Homo sapiens: one gene and its partners. The main gene of each other region encodes a partner of the protein of the gene in region 2 in a complex. Each region holds a gene or a part of one and is shown on either strand. Other genes may lie near its edges. The genes, in order: CACNA1C, CACNB2, CACNG1 and STAC3.

Region 1 (7,025 bases), on a different chromosome or scaffold from region 2:
AGGGGGCGGGTGAGCCATCATAGGGGTTAGAGTTTCAGGAGACAGAAGAGGAGTCTAGGACTGCCTCAGAAGATCAGTAATGGTGACGAAACAAAGAGTCGAGAACCAAAAAAGTTGTCAGTGGCGGGGGCTGTGCATTCCTCTCTTCCCGACATGCTCTGAGATGTGGAATGCACCAGTCCTTGCTCCCTCACCTTTTCCGTGGAGTGTGTGCATGTGTGAGTGTGTGTGAGTGTGTGTGTGTGTGTGTGTGTGTGTGTGTGTGTGTGTGTGTTGAGGGTCGAACTGGAGACTGGAGGTCAGTGCCTGGGAACAGCCTGGAAGTTCATTGAAGGACCAGCTTCTGACCCTGGGTTTCAGGCTGGGGTGGCACACTCAAGCCTTGCCTCGCCTCTGGTGCCCTGTCTGCTCTGGGCCTGTGCCAGCCTCCCACTTTTCTGGGCCGATTTTCTATTGCAGGCTCCAGCTAGCAAATGAGTGTCTTAATAGTCAACCATTGAACAAATAAAACACCAGAATGTCCCTTATCTGCTAGAGACAAGGCAGAGGGGAGAAACATGTGTTTGGGGAGTGCAAGACACACTGTGCTTTTCTTTTAACTACTTAGCGATTCAGCAGAATAAGAATCACTGTAATAAGGTAATAATAATAATGATCACAGTTAACTTTCTTTACAAATGGTCAGAGAACAACATTGCTCGCACATCAGCTTGAGCAGGTTAAAGAAAGCTGTGGCAATAGCTTTGCTTTTTCTTGATCCTGCATGGAGAAAACTGGAGGAAAGGGGCTATTGGAGTTCATCATATTATTCCTACTATTGGTCAGGCACTTTTTAGTGTTTTAGAATATGACAATATATTAAAAAGAGTCAATTTTTCATTATTTCCATAGAATACACACTAACAGTATTTAAGTGTGTGTGTGTATACATACACACATGGAATAAGGAAAAGCTATTTTAAATAGATCACACGAGAGGCTAATGCCCTTCAGGGACCTGGGGTGTTGAGAGAGAAGTATTGATAATGCAGTCTCCTAAGACTGTTTAAAGATTTCTTCTTCATAGTAAAGGGAGACTTGTTCTTACAGGTAGATGCTGCAGGCACAGTGCTTTGTAAATGAAATGATGAGCCGTTAGCCCCGTGGGACCATCTCTCAGTCTTGGCAATGACCTAGGTCTCTTCAATTTGTTCTTCAAATAAAACTGCTTGAGTTGGGTTCTTCTGTAAGACCTATCAAAGGGATCCAAGGAGCATACTGACTGGAGATTTCGAGGCCCTGCTCATCTTGGGATCCCTGCTTCCTAGTACAGGCCGCTGCTCAGTCCAGGGCCTCGATGCAAGGCTGAACAAATAAATGTCTGCGTGAATGAATGAATGCGACCTGGCCAGACCTGCAGTAGATGTGGCTTCTGCCTCTTCCAGTAGGTGGCGCCACAGGGCTTAGGAGTCAGGAAAGGGGCTTCAGGGTCCGCCTGGTGATGAAAGGTGTAGGGGGAGTTTAGAGCTTGTGACCTGTTGGGGCTGTGCTGCTTCCATCAGGCCCACACCTGCCCCGGCACAGGTAACCCAAAAGACCAGTGTGTCTCCGTGCCGCCGCACACACTGGAGGCCCTCGCGGCATCACTGAGGGACCCAGGTCCCACAGTGACCTCTCCACCCTGTTGTAATGAGAACTCCTTTGGAGCCCACCCAGTCCGTCGCAGGCTCTTCCCACAGACGTCTGTTCCCTTCCAGCACAGACAGCATCCCGCCGAGCCTGGAGGAAGCCTTTTGGGTGAATCGCTGAACTTGGTATGGCCAGATGTTAATTTTCTCCCTGATTTTTCACTGATGGTTTAGTAACCAGAGGGCCCGGTGGTGCCCAAGCCCAGTGGAGCATGGGGTGACCTGAAGCATGGGATCTGGGAACCCAGACCTGTGCAGTCACAGAGCTTGCCAGCCAAAGGCAGGAGGACATTTTCCTAACTTTAATAGGGAAAAGAACACAAAAACAACTGGGTGCACTTCACAGTTGATTTCCGTTTATGAGTCTGCCTGGATCTCCTGCTGGGTAATGGCAGAAAAGCTCAGGAGACCCAGGTTAGGAAGTAACTGAGATTTGTTCTAATTTCCAGTGATGTTTTCCAGCGCCTGGCATTTTCTTTTCTATTCCTTTCTTCACTCGGTTTTCTTAGTTGTGTGGCAAGTTCCATGAGGTCTGAGAAGCCCTTGGCACTGTGCTAAGAAGGGGTGAGTGGCTGGCAGCACTTTCTTCCTTTTACAGTAATTCCTCCCGCCTGATACAGCAGCTGTTTGTTCTGTAGGAGGTACAGGTCAGCCGGCGTCATCTCACCTCTTCCTTGCTGGGACCCTGAAATCAGTGCTGAGCATTCAGATTTAGCAGACAATTTTATTTTCCAATATGGACTACAGAAAGCTGATAGACTGTTTGCGAAACACCTGGAGACTTAACAACAAGCCTAATTAACAAAATAATCACACTGATTTCATCTGTTTCTAGATTCCATCCTCACAGTTGCCTAGGTTAATGTTGGGCACTGTGGAGGAGAACAGAAGATTGGTTTTAAAAAAAAAGGCATGGGGAATTGTTTTGCAACATATCAGGTGCCAAATATTTAGGGACAGAAGTGCTAAACATTCTGATAATGAAATAACACTCTGAGCCATGGCTGTCATTATTAAAATAATTTAGTAAACACCTGTTTACATGTACCTCAAGGTTAGATACCACGTAAAACAAGTAAAAGTGACAGGATCCCTCGGGGAAAATGGAATGGAATGTTTTTCGGTGTCATTTCGAAGCCGGGTGTGTAGACTTAAACTGAACCCACTGCAGAAAAAGCAAAATGGAAGGCTGAAATAATGAATGCCATCATTTGAACTGAAACCTGGGCACTCCAGAAGAGCTCTTCTCTGTGTTTTAATTCCTAGATGGGGTGCTTATTTGCTCAAGACCAGGCTTTCCTGAGCCTGTGTAGACACGGGCCTGGAGCAGGTAGACAGACCCTCTTGGTTTCTATAGTTGAGGCACCCCTGGAGGCAGCTGTTTATCATGGCAGGAAGGGAAGTGGATGCATTCTCTACTGCCCCCTTTCCCCTGCCGAATTCAGGCAGGACCCGCGCAGGTCCCTGGAGAACCTTGCTTCAGTGCTAGCTGTGTGTACCGTGTGGGCAGGACCCCAGCTGGGAGATGGGGAGCCCAGGATGACCCCACAGAAAAGCAGAGCTGTGAGATGGCTGGAGCCTCCGAGAGCTGAGATGCAGAAGGTGAGGGGAAGCCAGAGGAGCCCCAACTCCCTAGGGTGTCTGGGAGGGTTTGGGGAACAAGGTCATCAGGGTAGTCAGTTACTCCTTGTGGAGCTGAACTGAATTTAAGTTGGGATTGTAGGGACTGTAGGAGAGAAGTTTGGGCCTGGAGCTCAGGAGTCGGACCGAGGTTGAAAATAGACCCTTCCTTCCCTGGAAGCCGAGGGAACTAGAGGAAGGGTTCATCTGGCTGAAGCAGAGGGTGAGGAAAGCGGGGGTTAACTGGCAAGAAACCCAAACCTCTCAGCCCCTCCCCTCCCCAAAACCCCACAGAACAGTTCTCTGCAAAACACCTTCACTTTAAAATGGGCTTCTTGTGCTATACCCTGTGTGTATAGGGGGCAAGGGGCTAGGCTCTGGTTCGTTAAAGGGTTTGTCAAACATAGAATAAATGTAATGTCTCTTTGGGAATTTACTTTCTAGGATCAGGACATTTTATGGGTAAAGGAACCTTAGAGACAATCCTCATTTCCAGTTGAGAAAACAGAGGCCCCTAAAGGTTCATGGAGGCAGGGATGTAACTAAATACAAGGTCTTCAGTCTCTTCATCCTCCTGCCTGTACCACACTTGGTGCTGGCCCCCTGAGAGAGCATTGTTAGTGCTTCTGGCTAAATTTTGCTTGGTAGATCTTTCAACCTCTCTATTCTTCCTCCCCCTGCCTCCACCTTTGTACTGCCTTAAAATAATTTCTGCGATGTTAGATTTAGGAATGGAGTTGGAAGGGTGGGGTGGGGGAAATCTATCATTGGAAAGGTTTAAAAACACTTTCTTAGGCTACAGAGTAGAAGTTCATACATGTCCACAAGAAACTCCTGCAAAATTCAGATCACGATTTTGTCTGCAAACAGATCTGCCTCTAAGCCTTTTTTATTTGCTCACTTCCTCTCGGCCCCAATCTAGGCTTGTTTCAGCCCCTTTGCGAGAGTGGGATGGGGATGGGAAGCCGGGCTGTGCTGTGGGACTTCCCTGGTGAGCTGCTGGGATTCTTCATGGACCAGCTGGCATTACCAGTAGCTGGGGTATAGACACACAGATCAGCCCCAGGGTAGAGACTGTGAGACAGGCTGCCACAGACTCCACCTGAGCTGGGCGACCAAGGGCGTCTTTCTGCTCCCATGTCAGGGTTGGTCTCCTAGGACCCCCGGCCTACTCCCAGGAGACATTCCCAGCAGTGGTGGTAGACTCAGCCCATGGAAGAGAATCACTAGGACCTGCCTCTGACATTCCCATCTTCCTTGAAGTGTTCATTGGCTGACTTGTTTCATACTCTTTCAAGTCATCTCTGAGAAACTGGAAGGCCTCTGAGGCTGACTCGGTCTAGCTTGAAGACGGAGGCATGAGCCAGGCTCATGCTTAGAGATGTGGCTTTTGAGTTCCCTGGAGGAAGCCATCATTTCAGAACATAGTGTTGTGATAATTTCATGAAATATTCAAGCTGCCAATTTGCCAACAGGGGTTTCTTTTAATACACTCGGCTACACTTGGTGTTGCCCACTTGAACCTAGCTAAAAGGAAAATAAAATAATCTTGTCTCCTGTCCTTTAGAGAACCAAGCCAAAATCTAGACAGTGAATGAATGTTCTTCTCCATATTGCCTGTGGGCAGAAATGTTGACTTGAGTACTCAATTAAGCTCTATTTACTTTATAACCATTGTGTCATGTACAGTCATTTATATTCCTTTCTTTCTTCCAAAATAATCTACGTTGGGCTAAAACCTTTCAAAGACATTAACAAAAGTAACAAAGTAAATAGCTAAAGAATAAATAAGGCTGTAGGCTAGAGAAATGACTTGGGTCTTGGGTCACATTCTTTGACTTCATCTCTTTCTCTGAGAGTTCAGAAGGAATCAAATCCCTTTTTTTTTTTTTGTCTGTAAAGTGGAGATAATAATCCTTAGCCAATTCACTTCGCAGGGCAGCTGTGAGGATCCAAATAGGAGAATGAGTGTATATCGCTGTTCAAACATCAGCTACTCTTATTCTCCCCATCAGCGAGCAGAGCACCAGAGTTTGGAAAAGCAACGCCATGAAGTAACATTCACAGCATTTCAAACAACTTTGGAGGTGTTGTGGGAGGGCTGACATTATTCAATATTTTAAAGGTGAAAATGTAAAACAAAGAGAAACCAGAGTCTGAGGTGGTCTGGCTGATACCAGAATAATCAGGGAGGAAGTGAACCATTGGTTGAGATGGGCCTGGTATTTTGCCCTCCAGAGAGTCTAGGAGCCTGTGGCCAGTAGGCTCCCAGGACGGTGGAGCCATGTGCACTGCTGGCACTGCTGCTGTTTCCAAGCTGAGGGTGAGGACATGGGGATGCAGGGTATCCGACGCCTGGCAGCTGTCCACCTGCCATGCTGCTGTCCCCTCACTGCCACCACACATGGCTGCCTGGCTTCGGCCTCAAGTCCAAAGCCACGCTGGCCTGAAGTCCTTTCATGGCCTGAAAATAGGGCCATTGAGGGCAGGAAGAACACCACCTGGGCAACCAATGTCTCCTCACTTTTGAACGTGAATTCCCCAAACCTAAACCCAACTTCCCAGTACAGGAGGACGGGCTGGAAAATAAAACTTTGCTTCAAAAGTAAACTTTGGGTTTGGAAAATAAACTTATTTATTTTTCATAGCCAAAATGTTGCAGGTTTGGAGATAGAGGGGACAGTTCTGTGTAGCTCCCTAAGACACTGATCAAAATAGGAAAGAGCTTTAACATTATAGTCTAAGTGACAGGATTAGTTTTAGTTTCCCAAAGCAAAAATAATCCCATCATCAAAAAGTATGCTGGGAAACTTTCGCACTTTCGCATTTGTTTGCACCTTGTTCTACCCCCAGCTCTGGTCCTGTGATCTGTGGAGCCATATATGTTTTAATTTTTCTCTAAAGAAAAAAAGCTGTATTGAGGTATAACATCTACCTTGTTATAATTTTAAAATAGAGCAAGAGTAATAGCCACCATTTATTGAATGCCTAGCATGTGTTAGACAATGTTCTTGGTGCTTCATGTGCTTAATATGTTTTATCCTTACAGTAATCCTACCACGTGGGTTTTAATTATATTTTTTAGATAAGGAAACTGAGGACCAAAGTCTTAAGCAATGTGGCCACAGCCACCCAGACAGTGTTGGGGCTGGGAATTAAATTCAGGTCTGTCGGACTTTCAAAACATTTGCTCTTTCTGTTACTTCTCCCCATGGAGAACAGTAGAAAGAGAAACCCACTATCTCTCTATCCTGGGAAAATGACCTTGTCCTTGCCTTCTGGAACCTGGCTTAGATTTGCCTTGTGGAAGCTCAGAGCTGGAATCCTTGTTCTTACTTGATGGCTGCATGTTGTCGTGGTACCCCGCCTCCCCTCCTGGTCCCGTCCTCTGGCTTTCTTTCCCCTTATTCCCAGGGTTTCTGCCAGGGCCCTCCTTGCTTCTTCACATCTCCTCACAGGCCTTCACAGACCACCTAGGTCAGTACACCTTGTCTCCCGGGGGACCCATTTGTGGCATGGCCTTGCTTCACCACCCATTCTTGGAATATTTCCTCAGTCACTCCCTCCAGGAAAATAGACACTCTCCATTCTCAAACGAGATTCCCGTGAGTCCCGGGGACCATCCCTGTAAGCTGAGCTCTCCAGACTTCATGCATTATTTATTTATTTATTTTGAAATAGCAGCTTTGTTGAGGTATAATTCGCATACCGTAAAATTTACCCTTTTGATGTGTATGA
Region 2 (7,025 bases):
TTCACAGGAATTAGCAAGTGATTGCATAGATAAAGGAGAGAGAAGAGAAAGGGCAGAATGGATTTTAAAAGCAAGTTTAAGAGATATAAATATTCAACTGCATCAACATTCATCTCCTTGCTTTCTCTGCCTTCCAAAAATGAAAGCAATTTGACTTGAATTGCGTTCATCTCACACCCATTATTTGAGGGAAACATTACCTTGTTTATTTTATATCTGATAAATCATGGCATCATAGGATTGTGTGAGGCTTGGGAAAGCCATCTCTTCCATCTCTCTGTTTGGGCAGAACAGACCAGCAGTAAAAACTGCCTGAGAAAGGAGGCTGGCTCTAGAGCATCCTCCTTGTATGTGGCACCGAGTAATTCTACTCAGAATTATTGGGCAGTTCTACCTAGAAATGGAGTTTCTATTTACAAATGGAACCTCTAAAGCAATGATTGGTTTTAGGAATCATTCTACCTCACCTCTGGATTATAGTATTATATTTGTATGAAGAAAGCAGAAGATGTAGATTTGCAAACTCTGCCATTTTCCTTTTCTGTATCAATCATTCTGTCTAGAGAGAGGGAGCATCCTGATACATTCCGGTCCCTTTGCCCCAGTACATTGCCATAAACAAAATGATACATTTCTCAAAGCCCTGGTTTTTGTTTTGTTTTGTTTTTGTTTTTGTTCTGTTTTGTGTTTTGAAACGGAGTCTCACCCTGTCACCCAGGCTGGAGTGCAGTGGCATTATCTCAGCTCACTGCAACCTCCACCTCCTGGTTTCAAGCAATTTTCCTGCCTCAGCCTCCTCAGTAGCTAGGACTACAGGCGCCCGCCACCATGCTCAGCTAATTTTTTTGTATTTTTAGTAGAGACGAGGTTTCACCATGTTGGCTAGGCTTGTATCAAACTCCTGACCTCAGGTGATCTGCCCGCCTTGGCCTCCCAAAGTGCTGGGATTACAGGCGTGCGCCACCATGCCCAGCCCAAAATGGATACGTTTCTTACATGGGAAATGAATGGCAATCTAACTGCAAATTCTTGAAAGTCCCCATTTAAGAAAATTGCATTGCTTTTTAGGTAACCTGTTGAACAGTTTCAGCGTGAACCTGGACACAGTCTACTTCCAAAGTCCAGGTGCTCATGGAGGACCCTTTCTCCAAGCTCCAGATCTGTCTGTTCATTGTGGTAGCTGCTAGCCACCTGTGGCTTTTGAGCCCTTGAAATGTGGCTGGTCTGAACTGATATGTGCTGTAAATGTGAAATACACACCAGATATCAAAGGCTTAAGATGAAATAAAGAATATAACACATCTTCATTAGTAAATTTTAAATTGATGACATGTTGCAATGACCATGTTTTGGATATGCTGGGTTAAACAAATGCATTGTTACAATTAATTTCACCTGTTGCTGTTTACCTTTTTAATGTGGCTGCTGGAAAATTTCAGTGATATATTTGGCCATATGACATTTCTATTGGGCAACATTAAAGTATGAAACTGGTAATTCTCCAGGGAATTGAATAGCTCCTGCGTGAAGGTTGGGTGAACGGGAAGCAGGTGACAGGGATTGATAGGTAACAGAAGAGGAAACGGAGGAGTAACAAGAACAGTATCTCAGCACTCTAGGCCTCAGAGAGATTGTCAGTGGCACCTCCAGTCGCACCTGAAACTGAACAGACAGTAACCAGTGGGCCTGTTTGTTTTGCTCCTAGCAACAGGTCCCAGCTGGTCCCAGCCCAGCCGAGTCTGCCAGATGCTTTTCAAGCATGTTGTGGTAATACAGCCTGGTGATGGCAACATCCTGAATGGCTGTAGCAAGGAGCTTTATCCAAAAAGAGTAGCAGCTGTTTTCTAGTGGCTCTTCAACTACATCAACACTGTTTTCCTGAAATATTCTTAGGTCCCGTGTGCAAATGAGTTTTCTGCAGTCTCCAAAGTTGGTGGTTACAGGTCCTGTGCTTTATGTTTTGCTGAAATCTTCACTCTTAACCACCATCACTTTCCTCTTGAATGGTATTTTTTTTTTTCTAATGTGACATGGGAGAAATTTACAGACATGCCAATCAGAATTTCTGAGTATGTTTTAGAATTTGAAATATATCTGAGTGATTTGAGGTTTTGTTGTTCTTACAATATCATGCTCATTTTATTTTTCTCTCTCTTTTTATGTGAAGACTCAATTTACCTGTTGCTGTATTTAATTCCTTTGAATTATATAGCCTTGGCCCTTTCAAGAGAAGCTAAGCAAAATATGTTAACCTCATAGGGGATGGTGATACTCTACAATTTTGTGGCATGTCTCTATCCTACACGTAGTCTAGGTCAAACATAACATAACATGGTTATGTTACAAACTAATTGTAACAATGCATTATTTCACAACTGCAGACAGAGAAAACTACTTATGACATCACTTAAAGGAACCGGGCCTGTCTTACTGATCTTTCCAAGCCTGGCAGGAGGTAGACTGTGAAGAAGGCATGTGTTGTTCCTGGCTTTCTGCTCTCCCTGCCTGTGCTCCTCCTTACTGGGCAGATAGATCTCTGCTTCCTGGCCTCCTCCTTCCTCCCTCCTCCCTCCTGTACCTGCTAGACACCCACCCCCATCCCCAAGAACTCTATTTATGCAGGCTCCTTGTTCCTTTCTGCTTTTGTGTGAACTGAGCCATATTATAAAAGGCAACTTACTTCTCTCTTTTTTCTAGGAATGTCATTTAGCTACTTCTTGCCTAGTAAAGGATCTTACCCTTAGCTTATTCACACTAAGCTATTGGTAAATGAGGAGATTTGATACATGATTTCTCTCTGGATAGTTTTGGCTTTGTTTGTTTTAGGTCATAAGATGAGGAAAGTCTGGAAATTCAAAGGGATAAACATCAATGAATACGAACTGAGAGAGATGGAGACTAATTTTTTTTTTTTTTTTTTTTTGAGATGGTGTCTCACTCGGTAGCCCAGGTTGGAGTGCAGTGGTGCAATCTTGGCTCACTGTAACCTCCACCTTCCATGTTGAAGCAATTGTCCTGCCTCAGCCTCCTGAGTAGCTGGGACTACAGGCACATGCCACCACGGCCAGCTAATTTTTTTTTTTTGTTTTTCGAGACAGAATCTCGCTCTGTCACTCAGGCTGGAGTGCAGTGGCGTGATCTCGGCTCACTGCAACCTCCACCTCCTGGGTTCAGGCGATTCTCCTGCCTCATCCTCCTGAGTAGCTGGTATCACAGGTGTCCGCCACCACGCCTGGCGAATTTTTTTGTATTTTTAGTAGAGATGGGGTTTCACCATGTTGGTCACATTAGTCTTGAACTCCTGACCTCAAATGATCTGTTTCCCTCTGCCTCTACCTCCCAAAGTGCTGGGATGACAGGTGTGAGCCACTGTGCCCAGCCTAACTTTTGTATTTTTTAGTAGAAACAGGGTTTCGCCATGTTGGCCAGGCTAGTGTCAAACTCCTGACCTCAGGTGGTCCACCCACATTGCTTTCTCAAAGTGCTGGGATTACAAGCATGAGCCACCGTGCCCGGCCTAATTTTAAGTGTCAGTATTTTGCTCATGGGAAGTAATCTGTAGGTAGGAGAAGTGTCACAATAACCATAAAAGCACAGAAGCCACATCATTCTTCAGGTTGTCCCCAGGGGCTGCCAAGACAACTTTGAGTGCACGGCTAAAATCTCCAGTTAACTGACAACTTCTGTAATTAATTATTCCTGTCTCCTTCAATCATGCAGCAATTAGATTTTCATTACCTGTGAAAAGGTCAACATTTATTTGCTGATTTTTAAGACTGGAGTCCATTCTTAAGTTACTTCGTGTCAAGGAAGATGGATATTCATTCACACTAAGCTGATATTAACATCATGATGGATTTTGAATGTCTTTTTAATAAGTCATTAATATATTTTTGGAAATTTCTTAAGAATTTTTTTCCCTAGTTTCTGAAATCTTAGCTTGATGTTTTGGAACAACTAAAGGAATATAAATATAAGAGTTTTTTTTTTCTTTTTACTGTGGTGACATAATTTGTTTTAAGCTTCATATAGCTAATAGCAATTAGTGGAAATTAGTGACTTTTGGGACTCTTTCAAGAAGGACACAGAGACCTGCATGTGTCAGGGAGAATCTATAGGTAACACCTTGTACTACAGCCAAATCCCCTTTCCTGTCTCCCCTTTTCCTTATACAACCTGGGCTGCACTAATGATTAACTGTTTCAGATATTGGGCGTTCATATATTTTAATGCTGGTAAAAAATATTTAGAAAAACTGTTCACAAAAGTAGCTGCACTTGAAGTAGCAAATTAACTAAAACAATTACATATATTTTTTTTTTCAAATTTAGTCAGCTAAATATTTGAACACTTAATCTTCCCTGTCTTTTCCGTTTGGGAGAGGTTTGGCCTTCACTTTTTTCCCCCCTTAATTCCTTCAGAAGAAGTAGTCTAGTCCTTATTTTCAAGGATTTCAAGTAACTGAAAACCAAATCTTTCGAGCAAGATGGACTTAATTTTAAATACACATTAGATTAAAATAAATTTAATTTTGTAATAGCAGGATGAATTTTCACTAACATTTTTAAAGGTATATGAAAATGGACTATTAGCTTTCCAAAGATGCTTTAAATGTTTTTTTGTTTTCTGATCCTGACTGTTATTATAATAACAAAATAACTGGTCAGTAAGTAATCACTCTACAGTTTTTTAAAAAAAAAGAAACTTTAGAAGAGAAATTCCTGTGGAAATTAGTAAAATAACAGAATAGAGATATAATGAAGCATATATATTTATTTTGTCTTTTAATATGATATATGATAGGGATTTGCTCTAACACTCTTAAGGCATGAGCAAATGAATACTTTAAATAAATCATCCCTTATACACTTAAGTAATTGAAGAACAATTTTTTTTCTCAAAACTATCACCAGCATGCATGCAGTTCAGTGTGCTATAGTTGTTTGGTGTATAAACTATCTTAGTACAGTTGAAAACTGTAATAATTTCATTACATATACTTTGCATAGGTAGCTAAGTACGCCTGAAATAACATTTATGAACAGGATTCCCAGGGGTCTGGAAAAATTAATGTGAGTTTTTAAATGTGTTCAACTTCTTGCAGAGAACAGCCACCTCCTCTGTGACTGAATGTCTTCAACATTGTGTGGCTCTCACAGTGCCTGTTGTACAATTGTAAGCAACCACAAAAAAGCTTACACATTCAAGAAGTTGGATAATGAGACATATTTATCACTAAAATGCTAAAATTAAAGGACAATAGAATTGCGAAGATACTCTTTTCTGTTCATTTAAAAACGGTACTGGAGGCTGGACATGGTAGCTCACTCCTGTAGTCCCACCACTTTGGGAGGCTGGGGCGGGAGAATTGCTTAAAGTCATGAGTTCAAGACCAGCCTAGGCAACATAGTGAGACCCTGTCTCTACAAAAAACAAAAATTAGCCAAGCACGGCAATGTGTGCCTGTAGTTCCAGTTACTTGGGAGGCTGAGGTGGGAGGATTGCTTGAGCCCAGAGGGTGTGGGGTGTAGTCAAGGCTGCAGTGAGCCATGATCATATCACTGCACTCCAGCCTGGGTGACAGCACAAGACACTGTCTCAAAAAAAAAAAAAAAAATGGGATGAGATTATATTTTGTCTTTGTTCTCAAAGATAATTCATGTTCCTCATGAGGATAAACGGTGAATTTAACAAAGATTGTCGCTACACCCCCAAAGAAACAGGCCTTAAAAATACTTTCTAGGTAATAAGTATTTTTGCACATAGGTTAATATAAATTTAAAAGAAAATTTTAAAGAGATTTTCATACTTTATTTTAGCCTTCTTAGGCCTTAGAAAATGCATCTGTCCAAACCTTTACATAATAATTGGAAAAGAAAAAAAGTGGTTAAAAGAATGTTATTTTTCAACAGTTTACTGAATAATGTTTACACAAGTAAAAAGAATGAGCTGTTAACCGAGGACAACCTTGTATATTACATTATGAAAGACCAGCGTAGCTTTCTTGCCGTTTATGAAGTTGAGAGTTAATTAAATGTCATGGAAACACATTTGTATTATATAAATCCCTTAGATACTCTGAATAGAACAAACATATATAAGAAAATTTTTTGCTTTAAGATGATACCACCCTCTCACTGATAGCAAATTCGTCTAAATTACTCATAACGCAAATGTTTGTAATAGATTTCAGCTTGCCTAAGTGCTACATATATTATGGCAGATATTTTAATGAAAAGCATATGAATAGAGAAAGCATAACCAAATAGCATTTTGAGAACCTGAATGTGATGATTTTAAAAATAAATGTTGTAAATTTTGATAATCTAAGGAAGTCTCTATGAGCCTAATAATTGTCAACATGTTATACGCTTTAGTCCAGTTTGTTTCCACATCTTCCAACCCCTGTATAGGTATCACTTTTTATGTATTACTTTGAGTCCTTACCATGTGTTAGATCTTATGCTAAATGCTATAAATACATTATTTCGTTTCATACTTAATCCTATGAGGTATTATTTCATCTAATACTTAACCCCATTTTAAAGATGAAAAGATTGATGCTTGAAAAAGTTAAGAAATTTGGTGAAGATTTGCTATGTCCAGGATTCTAACCTGTGTGCTACATTTAACTCTAAACTCAACTGTTAAGCTATTGTTCATTTATATTTTAATGTTTAATATTTGCCCTTACTGCATCTATGCTTAGAATTAAACATAGATTGATGTGTAGTTTATTCTTAGGGTTCTGAATGTAAACATAATAGGAAAAGCAAGTTCATTTTTAGATGTTTCTGCTTGGCCCAATCCTATTATCGAAACAAATCATCTTACCTTTAACTTCCTGTTTTAAATGCTTATTTTTAAATGCTTTATCATTACAGGCTTTTGCCTCTTGCCTGCTAACACATTTATAAGACGACATCCATTGTTTTAATTCACTAGTTATTAAATGCTTTGCCAAGAAAACCCTCCTCAGCCGGGTGCAACGGCTCATGCCTGTAATCCTAACACTTTGGGAGGCC
Region 3 (7,025 bases), on a different chromosome or scaffold from region 2:
GAGAGTTGTCATTATTTGACCTGTCTGGTGATTCCCTGAAAACCCCCACTTGAGAAGCTGTTTCTGTTTGACCTGACTCTGAGCTCATCCAGTGCAAATAGTCTTTCTCCCTGGGGATGTTTGTTGAAAATAATTAGAGATGATTGATTAACATCATGGCTGTCTGAGGCAGTAGATAACAGTTAGGGAAAACAACAGGCTAACCAAAAAACTGGAGACTGAAATGTCCATAAGTTGCTTTGAAAAGCTCCAACATATTCCTGGGAATCTAGGAGGCCACATGCATGCACAATGCTATATGCATGCTCAGGAAAGACCTGAGAAGGCCCTAAGCACTCTCTGCCTTATCTTGAGACTCTGTTCAAGCAGGAAGTGAAGGCTAAGGCAGAGATGTGGGTGGCTTAGCTGAGCATGAAAGTCATATGCACAGAGCCCCTCAGTAAAGACTGGGAGAGGCATTGTTGCCAAGCGTTTTAGGAAATTTATAATTGGTCACTAAGCTAATTGAACAGGGATCTCAGTGATCACACATGACAAAAAACACATACTTTACCATCTTAGTTCAAAAAAGTCACTAAACAAACAACGGGAACAAATCTTCAAGAAGGGGGAACAACTGATTTCCAGAGTTGCCACATTATATTGTTTAAAAAATACTGGCTGGGTGTGGTGGCTCACTCCTGTATTCCCAGCACTTTTGGAGGCCAAGTGAGAGGACTGCTTGAGGCCAGGGGTTTGAGATCAACCTGGGCAATATAGCAAGACCCTGTCCCTACCAAAAAAAAAAAAAAAAACAAAAAAAAAACCCCACAAAATATCCAGGAGTGGTGGCATGTGCCTGTAATTCTAGCTACTCCCAAGGCTTAGGTGAGGGAATTGTTTGATCCCAGGAGTTAGAGACTACAGTGAACTATGATCATGCCACTGCACTCCAGCCTGGGTGACAGAGCAAGACTCTGTCTCTAAATAAATAAATACATACATAAATAATACAAGACACACAAAGAACTAAAATGATAAGGGGCATACATGGGGCAGGGAGAAGTCAATAGATCTGTAAGGAAGCCAGATATTGGACTTACTAGACAAAAACTTTAAATCAGCTATAGTAAATATATCCAAAGAAAAAACAATCAAAACAATTAAAGATGAAAATGATGCCTCATGAAATAGAAACTATCAATTAAGACACAGAAATTATTTTTAAGGACAAAATAGAAATTCTGGAGTTGAAAAGTACAATAACTAAAATGAGAAATTCACTAGAGGGGCTCAATGGCATATCTGAGCAGGCAAAAGAATCAGTGACCTTTAAGATAAGTCAGTTGAGATTAGCCAGTCTGAGGAACAGACAGATAAAAAGAATAAAGAAAAATGACGAGAGCCTCGGAGACTTATGGGACACCATCAAGTTTATGTAAAGGGAGTCCCAGAAGGAGAGGGAAAGAGAGAAAGGAGCAAAAAAGGTATGTGAAAAATAATGTCCAAAAGCTTCCCAAATTGGATGAAAAACGTTAAAAATCGACAAATTTATGAAGCTTAATGAACTCCAGGTAGAATAAACTCTAAGGGATCCACATCTAGACACATGATAATCAAACTGTTGAAAGATAGAGACAGAGAATCTTAAAAACGGAAAGAAACAACTCACCACATATGAGGAATCCTTAATAAGATGAACAGCCAATTTTTCCCCAAATCTATGGAGGCCAGAAGGTGGTGGGATGACATACATATATTAGCTCACCTAATCCTCACAGAAACCTCCGTGAAGGCCATGCTATTATCATCATCCCAATCTTACAGATAAAGAAAATCAACCACTGAGAGTTGAGATATTTGACAAGGTAACACAGGTGATGAGCAGAGCAGCCAGGACTCACACTCAGACCCTAACATTCACCGTTTTAGTCAATACATTAACTACTTTACAACAACCCAGTGAGTGGGTTCTTATTCTACAGGTGGTTCTTATTCTACAGGTGGGTCTCATTCTACAGGTGGTTCTCATTCTACAGGTGGTTCCTATTCTACAGGTGGTTCTCATTCTACAGGTGGGTCTCATTCTACAGGTAGGAACAGGGAGGCTGAGCATAGCCTTCCCCAGGCTAACCAGCTAACAAATAGAGGTTCTCCACTCAAGTCTTGAATCCAGAGCCTCCTTTCCCTCCAGTTCCTTCTCACACCCTCTATTGTGCATGAAAACACAGCTCCTAAAAGCTCTGACCCAAGTGAACACAAGGAGTCCAGCTTTTGACATGGCATAGTTTGAGGGCAGCTGGACCAGAAGCTGGTGCAGTGGAGCAGACTTCTCAAGGTCCCACTTAGTCTTAAAATGTTGGAGGCTCAGTGGGCAAGAGTTGTCTAATTTTTCCAAATTAGACAGTCTTAGACTCCAAACAGTCTTAGAAGGACTTCCATGTACAAGATCAACATCCAAGACCAATTCCAATGCCTCCAGAATGAGAGTAGGAGCCTCTCCCAAAGGAGAGACTATGTGTTCTGAAAGTCCAAATGAACCCGCAAAGAGGCCATCCCCTGCCCTTGGGCTGGGTGAAGTGCTGCTTCTTTCAGACTCTGCCTCTTTAGGGCAAGGAGGCAGGTTGCCCCAGGGCCCACTTTGCCTAGTGCCCCATTTTCCCTACTGGTCCATCTTCTCTCAGTGCGGGAACTGGGATTGTATAAAAGAGCATGATACTACTGACCCCAGGAATTTCATGGGCTCACTTCACCACCCACAGAAGTCCATGCCAGAGGCCTAGGCCAAAGCCAGGCTTCTCCCATGGAAGAGCAGTGCTCTGAAGCTCTAGGGTCAGGTCTTGGAGATTTCCAGCCCATTTTATAAAATTCTTCAATCAGAGATGTGGAAGGAGACACAGCCCAGAGAAACCACTGTTGGGAGCTGATAGAACTTCTTTTACCAAAAGGCTAAAAACAACACTGACATCAATGCAAGTTAGAGGCTTCCTTGCACCCCTAAAGTACCAGTTTCTTTGGTTTTGGACAAATCCACAAAGTATCTTTGAATATATGAAAGTCTCCATGGACAGTCACTTGGCACACTGATACATTCTCAGTGATAACCCAAGGCATCCACTAATCCTGCCAGCTGTTCCAACTATCAAAGAAAGATCCCTATTAACTCAAGTTCAGCTTGGAGCTAAATGTGGCTTCTGCTCTAATTCTTTGAAACTGGCACACTACACATGGTTCTGCACAGTTACTGATGCCCTTAACCAGAACACTGGGTTAGCCAGACTATTCCATCCCCCAGTCAAGTCTGAGAGCTGAGTTCACCATATTTTTAATAAATAACCCATTTAATATTTTTAAACCGCTGAGTCTTACAGAAATAAGGAGATTAAAATCAGCATAAGCCATCTGCAGAGACAAAGGAGAATGGCACGACCTCAGAGTTCCTAACACCCCAGATCATCATCCTGGCATTGGAATCTTTGCTGACTTAGTCGGAAGCAAAGCTGCAATCCCTGAGCTTTGTGTAAGTGTGATGGAAGCCAGGGCAGCGGGGCAGAGAGGGGCATCCCAGAGGCAGAGGCAGGAAGACTGAGAGTCTGCACAGGACCGTCACGGTCCCTCTCCTCTTGACCCATGACTAAGATGGGTCCACCTCGGATGTCCTTCCTCTTTACGTTGCCCTGGATGCTCAGTTTCCCAAATAATATCCACCTAGACCCAGGAACAGGGCAGGGAGGGAAGGGGCTCATAGTAGGGTCTGTCCATCTGAACAGGACCCTGCACCCTCTTGAGTAACATGGGCAGATGCCTGGCCTGATTTGTCCTAAATGAGGCCTGGGTCTGACGTGCCCCCACCCCTACAGGGGCCATTAGAGACCATGAAAGGGTTTATGGTCTCCAATGGGCAGCCACATAGCCCAGGAGTGGATGTTTCTCTCAGGTTCAGGGCAGGAGACACCGGTCTTTTTCACATGCTAAGCCCAAGAAAGGGGAGAGGTCAGCCCATCAGTCCTCAGGCCCCCAGTTCAGCCATGTAAGAGTGAAGCTGAGGCTTCCTGTTACCCTGAGAAGGAATCCTACCCACTGGAGGCCCCCTCCCTCCATTTGAGGACACTTAATGGAGAAGAGGGAGGAGGAACACTGTACCTGGACCACCAAAAGAAAAGCATCCCCCCAGAAGCTCACAACCTGGCTCCTGCAGACACGTAGCCTACCCCTGTGTCTGAGTTAAGATCATTTCTATCCAAGCAGCCAGCAGCCAGGCGGAGCCTGGCGTTTATCTGGTGGGGATTTGGTGAGCCAAATGCTACCTGTGTGAGAGTCACCTCAGCAACCCACCAGGTGCAAACAGCTGTGCCCCCAGCAAGGCACTCCATGGCCCTCATCTCAGGGCCCTCCGCTGGGAAGGATTTTAACTTATGGCTTTTGAGCAGTCAGGGAGGCAGCTGACCATGAAATACACTTGAATTCAGTCAATTCTGACAACTGAAATTGGCCCTTCAAGAATGAAACAGAAACAGAAATGTTTCTTTGTCCAGAGGGAGACACATGGAGACTTATGACATAGCATGGGCCATTTTGAAGCAGTGATTCGAGAGATCTACAGCCAATAATCTAACAAATAGAAGAGATCTGCATTATGCTTTAAAATAGCACCGGATGCCCAGAGAGAATAGCAGAGCACCAATTCTGACATCACCACCAGCAGTCAGACACCCCAGGTAACGCGGTTCAAAAGGAAAGTGATTTAAATATAGAAGCACACAGAGAAGGCTGTTTATGCCAGGAATGGGTACTGCTGCTAAACCAGATCCCATCTCCAGGGGTCATTTGCTTCCTCAACCTCAGGAGAGGCAGCAGCCCTGGCTCTGGGGGGAAGGAGGGGCATGGTATGAGACCACAGGCTTAAGGTGCAAGAAGAATGATTTAGGTCCGGTTAAAGAAAGTCTTCATCCCAAAGAAAAGCCTTGGTATCACTGCAGGTACATTTCCAGAAAGAACTAGGCATCAACCGCCTTATGAGCATCTAAATGAAGCCTGGAAGTGAAGAAATGAATTGGCAAACTAGACACCATCTCAACTAGAGAAAGAGATGTTTTTCTATTTAAGGGTCACTGATCCACAGGAAAAGAAATCAATGAAGGGCCTCCACAAATAAAAAGCAAACTAATTTAGTTTTGGAAGGAAACATAATATAAAATAACCCATTCATCCACTTCCTAAATCAAGAGCAAAGAAGATAAACCGTATTTAGCAAGAAATAAGACTGTGCTTTTTTTTTTTTTGAGACAGAGTCCCACTCTGTCACCCAGGCTGGAGTGCAGTGACACGACCTCAGCTCACTGCAACCTCTGCCTCCTGGGTTGAAGCAATTCTCCTGCCTCAGCCTTCTAAAGTGCTGGGATTACAGGTGTGAGCCACCACGCCCGGCCTGTGCTTTGATTTTATAGTATACCTAGCTATGAGAGAGAGACTGAAAGAGAAAAATGGAAATGAAATTATATTTTAAATCAGCATGAATTTCCTTGTGCTGAGCCCCTCCCCTCTCCCTCATCAAATTCAGATTTGCGTTCCTACTGCCCACAGACTTTCCATAGCTTTTATGACAATTATCAGGTGGGCCAAGCGGCTTTGTGGGGGCAGGTCTCATCTGGGCTGTCTCGCAAAGACCAGGGACCCAGTGAAACCACATGATGGTCACATTCAGCCCTCGTAGGGGTTCCATCTGCATCCAGGCCATCCCAATGGCCACTCGGAAAAAGCCCTTTGCAGGGCATTTTAAGGGGCCTGGAGCAGGGTTCCCATCCTGGCTGCACATCAGGCTCTCCCAGAAAGCTTTTGAAAAACACTGTTTCCCAGGTCCCACCAATGAACCAGGGTGTGCCTGGATTCTGATGAGAAACACAGTCCCAGGTTTGGGGTTGATCCAGGGTTTCTCAACCTTGACACTCTTGATATTTTGGCCTGGATCATTCCATGTTGGGAGGACCTGTCCTGTGTGTCTTGGGATGTTCAGCAACGTCTGTGGCCTCTACCGGCTGGGTGCCAGGTGTACCCCTCTCACCACCACCATAACCCCAGGCATCGCCAAGTGTCCCCTGGGGGGGCAGAATCGGCCCCAACAGAGACTGCTGTTTGGTTCTTTGTTGATTGTGCACCCTGCACACCCTGAAAAATGGCTTGAGCCTGGGCCTCGGTTACCCTGTCTGCCTAATGGGGTGCAGAACCCACAGGCCGTCTGCCCTGCAGACTCATCCAGCCTCAGCTCCCTGAAGACCTCCCAGCCCTGCAGGCAACCTCATTATCCCACTGAGATGTTGTTCTAAGGGTCAAAGACAGATGTTTCAGCCCAGATTAAGGATCTGGGGAGAAGAGAGGCTGCCAGAGCCCCCTGCATGCCGAGCAGAATGACACCACGCTCTCTGCCAGGCCTCTGTCCTTGCTACGGGTTGCTCCCCTCAACTCACAGTCTGTCTCCTCCTTTGCAGAGAAGAACTGTTCCTACTTCAGGCATTTTAACCCCGGCGAGAGCTCGGAGATCTTCGAATTCACCACTCAGAAGGGTGAGCCTGGGTGGAAAGGGGTCTGGGGTGACAAGAGGGGACTTCTGTGTTGTGCACCACTGGGCCAGAAAGTCATTGGCAAAAGCACTGACTTCCTCACGCCTGATGAGAAGAAGCCTGTGGTGCATTTGAACAACAGCCTTGTCAGCTCCCCGCTCCGGAGGCCCCAGGCAGCCGCCTTCCATCTCCAGGGCCCGGAGCTTCCACACCTCGGGGCCAGGGAGCGTTTGCAGAAGCAGCACCTCCTGGTAGGCCCCTACACAAGGGCAGCTGTTGTGACGGGAGGTGTGGATGTGGAACAAATGCTCAGAAGCCCCGTGGTGGCTCTTGGTGGCATGTGATAGTTAGAGTCTGCAGGGACAGTCTGAGTCCCTCCCTGGCCTAGAAATCCCTCCCTGAGTACCAGGAGGGTGCGGTGGGCTCTGGGAGCTTTTCAGGATCCGCAGAGCTCAGACGCACACCCATTGTCGGGAGTACAGACCCGTG
Region 4 (7,336 bases), on a different chromosome or scaffold from region 2:
ATCTATTTGAGCCAGCCTCTGAGTGGGAAGGGAACTATGGAACATATTTCAGATTGATACATTATTGTTAAAGAACATTAGCAAAAGCCACATTTTCTTCATAGCAGTAGCACCTTGTGAGAGAACTGAGGTATAGGTTCTTAGCTCAGAAACCCAGGATTCTGATTCCCTGTCCCTTCTTTCCTGTATCTCTGGGCTAGGAGAATAGAAAGGTTCATTTGTTTTTCTCCTAGTTGCCCTGATCAGAGCTGGGATGGTGGGGAGGGGAAGAAAGGGCTAAGAGAGAAAGGCCAGGCTTTTGAAGACATTGTATACAGACTTAGTCAGCTGGACACTTCTCTGCTGGGCTGCTGTCAAGTCCTTCCTGTCCTATTCCTCTCACAACCATGTCCTCTCTCCTCCCCTTCCAGTCCTGGGGCGGGTGCTGGAGGTGACAGATCTCCCTGAGGGCATCACCCGTACTGAGGCGGACAAACTCTTCACGCAGCTCGCCATGTCTGGCGCCAAGATCCAGTGGCTCAAGGATGCTCAGGGGCTGCCTGGAGGGGGTGGGGGGGACAACAGTGGGACTGCTGAGAATGGCCGCCACTCGGACCTCGCTGCCTTGTACACCATTGTGGCTGTGTTCCCCAGCCCCCTGGCTGCCCAAAATGCCTCCCTTCGTCTCAACAACTCCGTGAGTCGCTTCAAACTTCGAATGGCCAAAAAGAACTATGACCTGAGGATCCTGGAGCGAGCCAGCTCCCAATAAATGGAGGAGGGGAAAGGGACTGTCACAGAAGGAGCAAGGGCAGGGTGGAGGGGGTTGAAGGATCCTGACAGACCATGGACAGAGGCAGGAAGTAAGGAAACTGATGTTAAACTGGAACCTAAGACAGTGATGAAGATGGAAACACAGATACCTACACTGGCATTGGACTCCTTCTTGCTCCCCTGCCATGGGTCCTCTCTTTTTCCCTGGTTGACCCCCCTTGCATCACTCTTCTTCCCATCCTCTTCTTTTTTTTTTTTTTTTTTTTTTTGAGACGGAGTTTCGCTCTTGTCACCCCAGCTGGAGTGCAGTAGCACGATCTTGGCTAACTGCAACCTCCAGCTCCTGGGTTCAGGTGATTCTCCTGCCTCAGCCTCCCAAGTAGCTGGCACTACAGACACGCGCCACCATGCCCGGCTAATTTTTGTATTTTTAGTAGAGACGGAGTTTCACCATGTTGGCCAGGCTGGCCTCAAACTCCTGACCTCAGGTGATCCACCTGCCTTGGCCTTCCAGAGTGCTGGGATTACAGGCGTGAGCCACTGTGCCTGGCTTCCATCCTCTTCTATCATTTTTTTAAATCTCTTCTCCTATCATAAAATTAATTTCTCATTTTTTGGTCAGGTAGAATTGGGAAAGTCCCACACTGTCCTCCTATTACCTTAACATCCCAAGCTTCCTTTCCTTTTTTGGTCTTTATGAATATATTTATATGGACAGAATTAAGATAAACAAAATTGATTGCCCCATTCTCTCACTTCCCCATCTTGTCTTCCTAGACCCCACAGAGTTAAAACTTGGGATTCCCCTGGCCCCCCCAGAACACTTGTATATTGTTTGTTTGAGGTTCGTGCCGCAGTAACAGACACAGTATTTAATTGCACATACAGATGTTTGCTGGGTATATTCACTGTAAATTTTATTTAATCTGTTTTTTTGTTTGTTTGGGGGTTATTTGGGGGGAGGTTGGTTTTGTTTTTAAATATAAAAAAAAAAATCTGTCACTGGACATCAGTCACTGTTTCTCTGTTGCCGCCCTGGTATGGGTAAAGGGTTGGAGGCCCTGGGTAGGTATAGCCCTACAGCTGTTGGAGGTGTTTGTCGTGGGTTGGGATGGCTTTCTCTAGCATACGCACACTATTTTAACACCATTCCCTCTGTCTCATCCTCTTCCCTGTACACGGTTCTGATAGATGGCTAGATCTCTAATGGGACCATGGCTTTGGGCTCTCCCGGTTCTGCCACTGTGGTTCATCGAGCATATCACTTCTCAACTCTGGATCTGTGTCCAGATCAGTAAAATAAGAGACTTGGACTTAGTAGGTGACCTCTAGGTTTCCTTCCAGACTATTAATTCTGTGGTACTGTGTACTCATTTAGGGCCCTTGTAGTTGAGTTTTGAGATAGGGTCTTGCTCTGTCACCCAGGCTGGAGTGCAGTGGCAGATCTCAGCTGACTGCAGCCGCCTCCCGTGTTCAAGCGATTCTTGTGCCTCAGTCTCCCGAGTAGCTGGGATTACAGGCGCGATCTAGCATGCCTGGCTAATCTTTTTTTTTTTTTTTTTTGCTATTTTTGGCAGAGACAGGGTTTTACCATGTTGCCCAGGCTGGTCTTGAACTCCTGGGCTCAAGTGATCTCCCGCCTTGGCCTCCTAAAGTGCTGGGATTACAGGCATGAGCCACCACTCCCAGCCCAGCTCGTCTTCTGAAAACCCTTTAGGGATGGAGAACTTGGGCCTTTCTTTTTTTTTTTTTTTTGAGATGGAGTCTCGCCCTGTTGCCCAGGCTGGAGTGCAGTGGCGCGATATCTCGGCTCACTGCAACCTCCACCTCCCGAGTTCAAGCAGTTCTCCTGCCTCAGCCTCCTGAGTAGCTGTGCCCCATCGTGCCCAGCTAATTTTTGTATTTTTAGTTGACATGGGGTTTCACCATGTTGGCCAGGCTGGTCTCGAACTCCTGACCTTGTGATCCACCCGCCTCGGCCTTCCAAAGTGCTGTGATTACAGGCGTGAGCCACCGTGCCTGGCTGCCTTTCTTTAATCCTAAAGCTGGAGGATTGGGTTTTACCTGTCAGGGACAGAAGCAGATTTTTATTACAATGAAAGCTACAGCAACTGAACTCGCAGTGCCAAGATGCTGTATTATCCAAACATGCTCAGCAGTCCCTGTCCTATGTGGCTGAAAAAAGACGAAGAGCAGAAGTCATCTTGCCTGCAAGATGGAGCTTTTCCTTTAGAGCATCTCAAAGCAAGCCCTGTTGTTCTGCAGCCTGTCAGAGCAGGGCCATTAAAGAACCTGCAGAGTCAGAACCATCCTGCACCCCCTTTTCAAACTCCCCCCTTAAATAGAAAAAAGTAGTGGGTGAGAATGACAAAGCACGTTGCCCTGGAAATCTCTTGGGTCCAAGTAGCTGTATCCCTAACGACGATCCTACAGGAGCTTGCCTGACCCAGTCTCCAACACAGTCCTTTATTTCTTACAGATACAAGGAATAGAGCAGCACTGCATTGCCACCTCTAAATTGCTCTCCCCTGAGATGGGAGTATCTCCTCTTTCATCCATGTCACAGCCCAAAGAGTAGAAGGGTGCACCCCTGTGAGATGAGAATGGCATCTGTCTCTTTGATCCATCAGTTATATACTGAGGCATCAAAGGTGGGAGATGGAATCAGGGAATCAAAAGGGTTTAGGAAGTGTGAGGGTTGGCCATCCTACCTTTAAGAGTTTGCAGTTCTCATGAGGAAGGGGACATTACTTAGAAATGATTTAAAAAATTCCTTATGTGGCAGCTATATGCTTCTGTCCAGTGTTAACTGGCCCTTTTTAATAGCCCTGGTAATTCCCTTCAGTCTGAGGACAAAATTTTACAAGAAGGAGGGTGGGGAGATGTCTCTGGGAGCTGCTGGAGGGAATGAAGCAATACTACATATTCTTCACTTTCTTACAGGATAGCAAAGTACTCCTCCAACCACCTACAGATAAAAAGCAATCTAGCCATGCACGGTGGCTCACACCTGTAATCCTAGCACTTTGGGAGGCCAAGGCAGGCGGATCACCTGAGGTCAGGGGTTCGAGACCAGCCTGGCCAACATGGTGAAACCCCATCTGTACTAAAAATACAAAAATTACCTTGGCGTGGTGGTGGGCGCCTGTAATCCCAGCTACTTAGGAGGCTGAGGCAGGAGAATCGCTTGAACCTGGGAGGTTGCAGTGAGCCCGGATCGCTTCATTGCACTCCAGCCTGGGCAACAAGAGCAAGACTCTGTCTCAAAAAAAAAAAAAAAAAAGCCATCTAGTATGGCTGATAGGAGAGCTCTATGAGTTCAAATTAGTCTTTTTTTACCCTGTCTCAAAAAATAAATGAAAAATAAAAATAAACTCCCCTTAAATGTTAAATGAGCATGAACAGAAACTGTCCCTTCCTGAATTCAGCCATTATTCACCTGTTCGCCTTAGATGAAGAATCAAGGAACAGCAGCTCTAGGGGGTTGGGAGGAGTTAGGGTCCGGCCCTGCCCCAGACCTCTCAGTGTCCAATTTCTCTGTGTCAGCTGTGTTTCTCAGCTGTCCACTTTCCTCCAGCCCTGTCATTTCAGCCCTGACACCAAGGCAGGAGGCTAGGAGGTCTACAAATAGCGACTGGGTAGCTGGTGTGAACACAGGGGGTACTGGGGGGGCTTAGCCCCCAAGGAAGAGGACCAGTTTTTCCCCAGCACCACCATCAAGGCCTCGAGGCTCCCAGCTCCCTCTACAGCCTGTGGACTGACTTAGGGAATCCCGAACGTAAGTTACCTCTTCATCCTCTTGATTTCCACGACTGCTCACCCCAGCTGCCCTGATCTATAATCTACTCAGCTTCTTCATTTCTCTCCTTGTCTGTGAGTCTTTTGGGTTTTAGGCGTAAAATTATTATTCTACTCTAGGATGAGTTTGGATTGAAGCGGGGGGTGGGGGTGGGGGTGGGGTGAAGGGAATGAAGTAGTAAGGGAAGGAAAGGCTCATATTACCCTGAAAACTTAAAATAGCTGAGCCCTGAGGCAGGCTGGGACAGAACTAGGCACAGGGCCCCCAGGGCTCAAGAAAAAAGTAGGGGAGGACAAATGTCTCCAGTCCATCCTTCCTTGTGTGCACACGAGGACACACATTAAACCTCTTGAAGAGAGGAGATCTGGGAAGGTATGCATCACATCTCTGTTGCCCACAGATTTCCAGGAGAAACAAAGTACCTATAGGAAAATGACGTAAACCACGCAGCTTTGAACACTGTGTAAGGGCTGTAAACTATGGGGTCGCCCCTCAGGATGGAAGGATGAGTATCAGTTTGAGGAACTAATTGGGAAGCTCTTTAGTCTGTTGGGCTTTTTTTTTTTTTTTTTTTTTTTTTTTGAGACGAAGTCTTGCTCTGTCACCCAGGCTGGAGGGCAGTGGCACAATCCCGGCTCACTGCAACCTCCGCCTCCCGGGTTCAAGCGATTATCCTTCCTCAGCTTCCTGAGTGGATGGGATTACAGGCGTCCGCCACCACACCCGGCTAATTTTTATATATTTAGTAGAGATGGGGTTTCACCATGTTGGCCAGGCTAGTCTTGAACTCCTGATCTCTAGTGATCCGCCTGCCTCAGCCTCCCAAAGTGCTGGGATTACAGGCATGCACCACCACACCCGGCCATGTTAAGCTTTTTTCTAGACCTCCATGAAATCTGTTAATAAAACCTGCCAAAGGATCTGTATTTGGCCCAGTGCAGTGGCTCACGCCTGTCTCAACAATTTGGGAGGTTGAAACAGGAAGATTGCTTGAGCTAGTTCGGGACCAGCCTAGGCAACAAAGCAAGACCATGTCTCTACAAAAAATAAAAAAGTAGCCAGGTAGTGTGCACCTTGTGTTCCAGCTACTCAGGAAGCTGAGGTAGGGGGATCGCTTCAGGCTGGGAGGTCGAGGCTGCAGTGAGCCATGATCACGCCACTGCACTCCAGCCTGGGTGACAGAGTGAGACCCCATCTCAACAGTAACAACAGCAAAATCTCTCATCACATTTCTCCGAAAGCCTCCCCTTTGAGGACCACCCTACTGCAAGGGACAGAAAGGGAGAGAAGAATGAAAGGGATTAGATTTCATAGTGGGGTCCAACCTCTTGCAGGATGACAGAAAAGGAGGTGCTGGAGTCCCCTAAGCCCTCCTTCCCAGCAGAGACTCGGCAAAGTGGGGTGAGTCTGGGCCTCTGACCACTGGGTGTGGGGGGCTGGGAAGCCATTACAGCTGAAGAAGAGTGCTTAAATTGATCTCATTTGTGTGTGACTCATTTTTTGCTGGCCAGCACCTGCAGTCCCCAATACCAATACCCCCCTAATCCTGGGGTACATTCCTTGCCTGAAACTAGAAAACTGTCTAGTTTGCTCTAGCGCCCCCCTACTCTAGAGAGGGTGACAAGTCCTTTTAACATTGGGTTTTCTTCACTCCCTCCCTCAGCTACAGCGGCTAAAGCAGTTACTCAGGAAGGGTTCTACAGGGACAAAGGAGATGGAACTTCCCCCAGAGCCCCAGGCCAATGGGGAGGCAGTGGGAGCTGGGGGTGGGCCCATCTACTACATCTATGAGGAAGAGGAAGAGGAAGAAGAGGAGGAGGAGGAGCCACCCCCAGAACCTCCTAAGCTGGTCAACGATAAGCCCCACAAATTCAAAGATCACTTCTTCAAGAAGCCAAAGTTCTGTGATGTCTGTGCCCGGATGATTGTTCGTGAGTCATGAAGGGAAGTGAAGAGAGTATGATATTGAAGGCAGAGGTTTGGGGAGAGGGCATAGGAGAGGAGTATTTGTAGCAGATGGGCTGTGGCTAGAGTTGGTGTAAGGCAATGCTATTAGAGATTGAGCAAGTAGGGTCCCAGACAGAAAAGGAAACCTAAGAGTAGCAGCAGTGGTACAAAGGGAAAGGGCAATCTGGAACCTTATCTGAATTTTCTCCCCCTTTCCCAAGTCAACAACAAGTTTGGGCTTCGCTGTAAGAACTGCAAAACCAACATCCATGAACACTGTCAGTCCTATGTGGAAATGCAGAGATGCTTCGGCAAGATCGTGAGTAGGCTGTGGAGAGCAAGGAGGGGACATGGCCACGCGTGGTGGCTCACGCCTGTAATCCCAGCACTTTGGGAGGCTGAGGTGGGCGGATCACGAGGTCAGGAGATCGAGACCATCCTGGCTAACACAGTGAAACCCCGTCTCTAAATACAAAAAATTAGCCGGGCGTGGTGACAGGTGCCTGTAGTCCCAGCTACTCAGGAGGCTGAGGCAGGAGAATGGCGTAAACTCGGGAGGCGGAGCTTGCAGTGAGCCGAGATTGTGCCACTGCACTCCAGCCTGGGTGACAGAGCGAGACTCCGTCTCAAAAAAAAAAAAAAAAAAAGAGGGGACATGTCACCAGCCAGCTACCCCTTGCTGGTCTCTCCTCCATCCCATTCATTTCTCTGCTTTTTCTTTCTCAGCCCATCTCTTTTTCTGAGAAAGGGTGAGCACTCCTGGGAGAGATAGGCTTCTGGACCTTACTTTGCTACCTCTAATGCTTCCTCTCATCCCATCCTACAGCCACCTGGTTT

What was found.
Region 1: CACNB2 (region 2) and CACNA1C share a complex: the UniProt entries of both Homo sapiens proteins name them as parts of the calcium channel complex.
Region 3: CACNB2 (region 2) and CACNG1 share a complex: the UniProt entries of both Homo sapiens proteins name them as parts of the calcium channel complex.
Region 4: CACNB2 (region 2) and STAC3 share a complex: the UniProt entries of both Homo sapiens proteins name them as parts of the calcium channel complex.

What each region holds. Positions count from the first base shown.
Region 1 is NC_000012.12:2,055,965-2,062,989, forward strand, and holds part of CACNA1C (voltage-dependent L-type calcium channel subunit alpha-1C), read left to right. Parts: intron 1-7,025. UniProt on the Homo sapiens protein: Pore-forming, alpha-1C subunit of the voltage-gated calcium channel that gives rise to L-type calcium currents. Mediates influx of calcium ions into the cytoplasm, and thereby triggers calcium release from the sarcoplasm.
Region 2 is NC_000010.11:18,143,405-18,150,429, forward strand, and holds part of CACNB2 (voltage-dependent L-type calcium channel subunit beta-2), read left to right. Parts: intron 1-7,025. UniProt on the Homo sapiens protein: Beta subunit of voltage-dependent calcium channels which contributes to the function of the calcium channel by increasing peak calcium current. Plays a role in shifting voltage dependencies of activation and inactivation of the channel.
Region 3 is NC_000017.11:67,047,532-67,054,556, forward strand, and holds part of CACNG1 (voltage-dependent calcium channel gamma-1 subunit), read left to right. Parts: intron 1-6,464; coding exon 6,465-6,539; intron 6,540-7,025. UniProt on the Homo sapiens protein: Regulatory subunit of the voltage-gated calcium channel that gives rise to L-type calcium currents in skeletal muscle. Regulates channel inactivation kinetics.
Region 4 is NC_000012.12:57,248,188-57,255,523, reverse strand, and holds the start of STAC3 (SH3 and cysteine-rich domain-containing protein 3), read left to right. Parts: upstream 1-4,336; 5' UTR 4,337-4,531; intron 4,532-5,793; exon of another isoform or gene 5,794-5,886; 5' UTR 5,887-5,887; coding exon 5,888-5,953; intron 5,954-6,215; coding exon 6,216-6,483; intron 6,484-6,720; coding exon 6,721-6,818; intron 6,819-7,325; coding exon 7,326-7,336. Other genes in the region: R3HDM2 (R3H domain-containing protein 2), read left to right, coding at 411-751. UniProt on the Homo sapiens protein: Required for normal excitation-contraction coupling in skeletal muscle and for normal muscle contraction in response to membrane depolarization. Required for normal Ca(2+) release from the sarcplasmic reticulum, which ultimately leads to muscle contraction.